Linked DNA regions of Homo sapiens. The gene in region 1 interacts genetically with each later gene. Each region holds a gene or a part of one and is shown in the gene's direction. Other genes may lie near its edges.

What was found.
Region 2: changes in LARS1 (region 1) and PPP2R1A together harm fitness more than expected from each alone (negative genetic interaction), as found in Homo sapiens cells (one large-scale study listed by BioGRID).

The regions. Positions count from the first base shown.
Region 1 is NC_000005.10:146,154,841-146,158,663, reverse strand, and holds part of LARS1 (leucine--tRNA ligase, cytoplasmic), read left to right. Parts: intron 1-868; coding exon 869-936; intron 937-1,035; coding exon 1,036-1,261; intron 1,262-3,823. UniProt on the Homo sapiens protein: Aminoacyl-tRNA synthetase that catalyzes the specific attachment of leucine to its cognate tRNA (tRNA(Leu)).
Region 2 is NC_000019.10:52,192,925-52,196,747, forward strand, and holds part of PPP2R1A (serine/threonine-protein phosphatase 2A 65 kDa regulatory subunit A alpha isoform), read left to right. Parts: intron 1-3,823. UniProt on the Homo sapiens protein: The PR65 subunit of protein phosphatase 2A serves as a scaffolding molecule to coordinate the assembly of the catalytic subunit and a variable regulatory B subunit.

The DNA.
Region 1 (3,823 bases):
ATATTTGCTTTGATCATGTGCCTTCTTGCTTATTTCCAAAGTAATTCTAGCCATGCCTAGAAGTTCATTCTAATTCCTGTAGAACACATTATTAACATTATTCTCTGAAATACTTGAATAAATCAAGAGTAAGTGATTTGGCTAAATCCATGGCAAAGTAAAAATCAATGACAATGCCAGCATCTGAACTTATGATTCCCTATGATTGCATCATTTTTTATTACCATCTTTGAACATATTTTCAAAATCAGCCTTCAATTTTGATGTAACTTATCTAAGTGAGAGTTGATCAAAATTTTAAAAGATTTGAGAGACTTAAGACCCAGTAAAGTTTTAATATAGCCAATGGCAGCAATATCCTAGATTTCAGTAATCCTTTGTAGATTTTTCAAAGCATTTTTCATCTGTTATCTTGTGTGTTCCTCAGGACAGTCCTATCTGAGACGCAACATCCTTATTTTACCAATAAGGAAAGAAAGGCTTAGAGAGATTATGACTACCTTGGGTCTAACCATTAGTAAGGGAGCAAACTAAGTTTAGAAAGCACATTATCTCTGACCTCTGGTCTAGTGTCTTCCTTTGATGACTACTATGTGGGACATGCCCTGGGATGGAATTAGGGTTGATTGTGTCTTCTCACCTTCATTTTGGCAAACACTATTTTGGGCGATTACTCCAAATCTCTCCTAACGTACTAGACTTCTGTGTGGGTATAGTTAGCACACCACTGGCAATCTCTTCTCTGCAAAAAAAAATTAATAATGCAAGAACCCATTTTAGGGACTTGAATCAGATCTCTCACATAGATTAGTAGGTTTAAGGCAAGTCTTTTTTTTCCTTCAAATTTTTGTATCGTTTATTTGCTTAGGGTGTTGGACCTCAGGAATATACTTTACTCAAATTGAAGGTGCTTGAGCCATACCCATCTAAATTAAGGTAGGTTTGCCAGAGTAATTGCTTTATCATTTCTGAACCATCAGATAGTTGTTACAGAGTTGACATGTTTTTACATCAATATTTGTTTTTTTTTCTCAGTGGCCTGAAAGGTAAAAATATTTTCTTGGTGGCTGCTACTCTCAGACCTGAGACCATGTTTGGGCAGACAAATTGTTGGGTTCGTCCTGATATGAAGTACATTGGATTTGAGACGGTGAATGGTGATATATTCATCTGTACCCAAAAAGCAGCCAGGAATATGTCATACCAGGGCTTTACCAAAGACAATGGCGTGGTGCCTGTTGTTAAGGAATTAATGGGGGAGGTAAGTTGGATAGCAGATTTTTTATTTTAATGCGTAAATTTCAAGGAAAATTTCAACAATGAATATTGAGAAAAGAGCATTACAACCTTAAAAAATGAGGTGTACATGCAGTAAACTGTGTAAGTCTTGTGTGTTTTGGTGCATTTTCATATGTATATACACTTACGTAAACACCACCTAAATCAAGATATAGAACAGTTTTAGCACTCCAGAAGGCTCTCTCATGTCCATATCATTAGTACTCACCTCTCTCCTCCAAAGGTAACCACTGCTCTGACTTCACCAAAGATTAGTTGTTGTTCTTGAACTTTACATAATGGAATTGTGTAGTCTGACTGTTTTGTGTCTAGCTTCTTTTGCTTAACATTATGTTTGTGAGATTCATACATGTTGTAGGAATAGTTCTTTTTTTATTGTTGTGTAATATTCATTGTATGACTGTATCATTAAGATAGCATATTTTATTTTTAGGTTTCAACTCGGTAAATATCTGGTTGAAAAATATAGGCAGTCCTCCCCAAGAGATTTAATAGCTGCATTAGTCATTATATTATTTTAAAAATACTATTACCTGAATTCCTGGTAATACTAAATTTGGAATTGTAGCTGCCTTTTTTTTTTTTCATGTGAAGAAAGTCTTGGTTGATATTAATTAAATATGGATGGTTACACAGCTCATCTACTTTATTTTATTTTTATTTTTTTTTTTGTAGACAGTTTTGCCCTTGTTGCCCAGGCTGGTGTTCAGTGGCGCGATCTCAGCTCACTGCACCTCTGCCTCCTGAGTTCAAACGATTCTCCTGCCTCAGCCTCCTGAGTAGCTGGGATTACAGGTGCGGGCCACCACGCCCAGCTAATTTTTTGTATTTTTAGTAGAGACAGGGTTTCATCATGTTGGCCAGGCTGGTCTTGAACTCCTGACCTCGGGTGATCCACCCACCTCGGCCTCCCAAAGTGCAGGGATTACAGGCGTAAGCCACTGTACCCAGCCTTATCTACTGTATTATCAATATTTCTGAGTGTGTTTAATTCCATTTAGTGAATGCTGATCTTTGGTATCTTAAATAATTTTTTAAAAAGAAAAATATGAGTAGAGTACCATCTCAATTCTTTTAAATTGAACTATTTTATTCCTTATTTAATACTTTGATTGCAGTATATTTACAAGTCCCAAAATTCAAAAAACGCAAAAAGATACAAAAGTTCCCCATTCTAGAGGTAGTTAGTAATATCTGTGTCTTGTGTATCCTGGTAATATTTCATGTATACACAAGCGAATACACACATACTCTTTGTCCCTCTGTTTTTACACAAATGGCAATATACTTTATATGCATTGTACCACATCTTGCTTTTTAATTTGTATCTTGGCAATCATTTTGTCAGTACATAAACAGCTTCTTTATTCTTATTTTTTATAGCTACATAGTATTTCATTGTTTGGTTGTACCACAATTTACTTAACCATTCTCTATTAATGGATATTTGAATTGTTTCCTGCCTTTTTCTTTTAAAAGCAGCACTGCCACATCTCTTTAGTTCCTAATGTTGGAATTTTGTCTGAGAAGTTCTTGGGAACAGTATTAGGGACATACATGTTTTCCTATTCTTAATGCAACTTTTCTCCCTGTTAATTTGAGCAAATTCTGGCGTGAGGGACATGGATGTTATAAATTGCAAAATAGTTTCAACATTTAAAATGGTTATAATATTTAGCTGTCATCCATATGACTGCAAATTCTATAAAGGCAGGTTATAAGTACATATATGAATAAAGAGGGGTGGGTGGGAATTATGTGGAAAGGAAAAGTGTGTTCCTTAGCTAGAGCAAGAAGCTGCAAATTCTTTGTTGCCATCTGAGAATTTGGGTCTAAAATTGCTTAATCTTTTGGATTTTTTCAAGTGAAATTAGAACTATCCTTTTACTTTGTCTTCATAACTACTATTTTAAATAGATGTATAGTACCCATTCTTGTTCTTGTAACATATTTTGTTAAATCATTTTTTCTATCATTGAAAGCTTTAGTTGTTTCCAGGCTTTCCTAGTATAATTAACTCAGCATTGGGTAGACTTGTTTAAGAAAAAATAATTAGTTGTTGTTGAGTCTGAGTTACATGAACATTTTGTGGCTTTTGCTGTGGATTCCTATATTTTCTTCAAGGAGTACAATGTCACAAACAATGTATTAGTGTACTCATGTCATAATATTGACAGATTTAGTTATTATAATTATTAAAAATTATTTTTCCGGGACGGGCACGGTGGCTCATGCCTGTAATGCCAGCACTTTGGGAGGCAGAGGTGCGTGGATCACCTGGGGTCAGGAGTTCAAGACCAGCCTGGCCAACATGGTGAAACCCTGTCTCTACTAAAAATACAGAAATTAGCCAGGCGTGGTGGTGCATGCCTGTAATCCCAGCTACATGGGAGGCTGAGGCAGGAATCGCTGGAACCTGGGAGGCGGAGGTTGCAGTGAGCCGAGATCATGCCATTGCACTCCAGCTTGAGTAACAAGAGCAGAACTCCATCTCAAAAAAAAAATTATTTTTCCTCTAGTAGGT
Region 2 (3,823 bases), on another chromosome or scaffold:
GAGTTGCATGGTTGTAACAGAGATGGCCGCAAAGCTTCAAATATTTGCTGTCTAACCCTTTGCAGGGAAAAAATTGCTGACCTCTGACTTAAACCATCTGCGTAACAAATTATTGGGTGCTTGCTCTATGTTAGGTACAGTACAGAGGAATATCACTGACGATCTTACTGAATTCTCACAATCACTCTTTGAAGTAGGTCCTGTCCTTGTCCACATTTTCCAGATGAGGAAACTGAAGCACCATAAATAACATGGCCAAAGCTGTGCAGCTGAGAAATGAAGGAGCCAGGAAAGGAAGTAGGACCTAAGGGTGGAATAGAATCTGGGGTGGGACACACGGTTGCTGATTATATTCATATGCCAGACATTTTAATTGTGTCTGAGACAGTTCAGGATACTAGAAGGAACATGGGACATGAAATCCTGTAGTCTTGATTTATTTGTTCAGCAAATATTTATCAGCACCTCCTGTGTGCCAGACTCTGTTTTAGATACTAGACATACAGTAGGGAACAAAACAGCAAAGCTGCCCTTGTGGGGTTTACATTCTGGTTTGGGAGACAGATAGTAGATCTGTAGTGGGATGTCAGTGGCAGTAATTGCTAAGAAGAAAAATTGCTGGACGTGGTGGCTCAAGCCTAATTGTAACACTTTGGTTTTATTTTATTTTATTTTTTTTGAGACAGAGTCTCACTCTGTCGTCCAGGCCGTCTCTGCTCATTGCAACCTCCGCCTCCCGGGTTCAAGTGATTCTCCTGCCTCAGCCTCCTGAGTGGCTAGGATTAGAGGCGCCCACCACCACATCCAGCTAATTTTTGTATTTTTAGTAGAGAGTGGGTTTCACCATGTTGGCCAGGCTGGTCTCAAACTCCCTGCCCGCCTCTGCCTCCCAAAGTGCTGGGATTACAGGCATGAGCCACCACCCCTGGCCAATTCTAGCACTTTGGAAGGCCAAGGTGAAAGGATCGCTTGAGCCCAGGAGTTTAAGACCAGCCTGGGCAACAAAGTGAGACCCTGTCTCTACCAAAAAAAAAAAAAAAATTAGCTGGTGTGATGACACAGGCCTTGGTCCCAGCTGCTCAGGAGACTGAGGTCGGAGGATTGCTTGAACCAGGGAGATCGAGGCTGCGGTGAGAGCCTGGGCGACAGCAAGACCCTGTCTCCAAAAAAAAAAAAAAAAAAAAAAAAGAACAAAATAAGACAGGTACAGGGAATAGAGCAAGCACCTGGGGCTGCTTTGTTAGATAGGGAGGTTAGAGAAAGCTGCTCTGAGGAAGTGATGTTGAACAAGGATTTGAATGAAATGAACAGGTCGTGGAAGAGCAGTCTGGGCAGAGGGAATAGTTGGTACAAAGGCCAGGAGTGGGAGGATGCTTGATGCGTTCAAAGCACAGCAAAAAGGCCAGTGTGACTGAGGCAGAGAGAATGGCAAAGTGGTGGGAGGTGAGGACTAGACCAGGACTAGATCAAGTGAGGCCTGTGGGCCAAGGTGAAGGCCTTGAAGATGGGAGGGAGGAGGAGGAATTGCAAGGCTTTCAGTAGTAATTATGGGTTCTGGTATAATTTTAAAGGATCCTTCCTCTGGCTGTCATAGGGGTTGGGCCCTGTTGAGGTGCCATTACAAAGCACCCAGGACCAGTGTTAGCATGCAGGGGGGAAGTATGGTTACAGTCAGGACATGTTGAGGGGGGCTGATGGGATTTGCTGGTGGGTAATGTAGAGGGAAGAGTTGAGGGTGACTGAAGTTTGAACCCCCGCTCTGCCAGTTGTGCTCTCTGTGTGCCCCTGGAGCAGTACTTTCCCCTCTTTGGACCCAGATTCCTCATCTGCAAAATGGGGATAATGATGAAGAATCAGCGTGTGCCTGGTTGTGAAGATGCAGTGAAATTGGCTTGCTCATTGTTCTGCGGTAGTCATATGGTGGGGATTGAGCAGACCTGAGGAAATGGGGCATCTGGGGAACCGTGTGGGACCAAGTCAGCAAGTGCTAAAGCCTGGGTTGGGAATACACTGGGCTGTTTGTTTTTTTGGTTACTATCAAGGAAGCAGTTGTGACAAGCCAGGCCCAGTGAGAATGGATCAGTAGACTAGGGTCAGATTGTGTTGGGCCTTGTAGGCCAGAGTAAGGCCTTAGCTTTTATTCTGAATGTGCAGGGAAAACATACTACATGTGGGATTATACCATATACATTCATATTATGGAAGGCTCCATGGGTTGAATGCAGGGTGGATCTTCAAAAGTGGGTCCCCTTTCCACAGGTGCATATAGTGGGAAGGCGGATTTTATTTATTAACTCACCACAGAGCAGGCTCTGTGCCGAGGCCTGCTGGGACACAGAGAGTCCCAGTCTAGGGTGGTAAGTGCTGTCATGGAACCATATGGGTGGACTCTTTGGAAAATCCCAATTCCTATTCTCTCACTTAACACAACAATCAACAACACAGAAGAAGACTTCCGTGACTAAATGTGTGTTGGGGTGGGGAGGGATTCTTCACCACCACTAAGCAAGCATTCAGTTCTGCAGCACACGCCAACTGGATGTCCTCCAATTCAGTTCAGACACGACCTGGAGACAGTGTTGGATCCAACAGGTTGAGGGCTCAGGCCTCAAAACTGCCCCTTGGCCCTCGCCTTCAGTTGCCATTCTGGGTCGTCAGAACTTCTGATCTACCTGCTTCAAGTTGGAGTTCCCATGACCACCCTGCCTTTGGGTTTGATTAATATGCTAGAGCAGCTCTCAGAACTCAGGGAAACATGTAAGTTTATCAGTTCATTATAAAGGATAGTATAAAGAATACAGATGAAGAGAGGCATAGGGTGAGCTATGGGGGAAGGGGTGTGGAGCTTCCATGCCCTTCTTGGGTGCACCACCCTCCAGGAACCTCTGTGTGTTCGGCTATGTTGAAGTTCCCAGGCCCTGTCCTTTTGGGTTTTTATAAAGGCATTGTTAGGTAGGCAGGATTGATTAAACCTGGTGATCACCTTGACCTTCAGCCCCTCTCCGATCCCTGGAGGTTGTGGGGTGGGACTGAAAATCCCAACCCTCTAATCATGCCTCTCTGTTTTCCATGACTATCTTTCCAGTGACCATGGACCCCATCCTGAAGGTATCAGTCAACATTAGCATACAAAAAGCGCCTTGGAGATTCCAAAGATTTGAGGAGTTGTATGCAAGGAAATGGGGATGAAGCCCAAATCTGTATCTCACAGTATCACAACTGTAGCAGGTGCTTGGTGGGGACACACTTGGGAGATAGTCAGTGCACAGGGAATTCTCAGGATATGACATGATCAATGGCCAGTCAAGGTTTCTGAAATGATATTAATAGATTTTCTATCAGGAATGTGACGGAGACCCCAACCTAGAGTTGTTTAAACAAGTAAGAGTTCTCTTTATTTCTCATATAGCAAGTTCAGCAGCTCAAAGCTATCACAGAATTGGGTCAGCTCAAAGATATCACAGAAATGCGGTTTTTTTGACTGGCCTGTTTTGGTTATAAGATTCCAGCAGCATCTGCTGTCCTAGTGGAACTGCACTTTTTAGTGCAGTTTAGCAGAGGCCAGCTTAGGACACAGAGGTTCTTTCCCTCCTCCCTTTTATGAAGGAGGAAAATCTCTCCTGAATCTCCTCAGCAGACTTGCTTGTATATCTCTTTGCCAAGAACTAGGTCATATGCAGAGTTAGTTGAAGTTAAGTTTGGCTGTAAGTAGTAGAAAAACTCTAAATAACAGGGGCTTAAATGAGCTTGAAGTTTCTATCTGACTGATGACCAAAATGTCTGGTGGCAATCCAGGCTGCTGTGGCACTTCATGGTGTCAGGG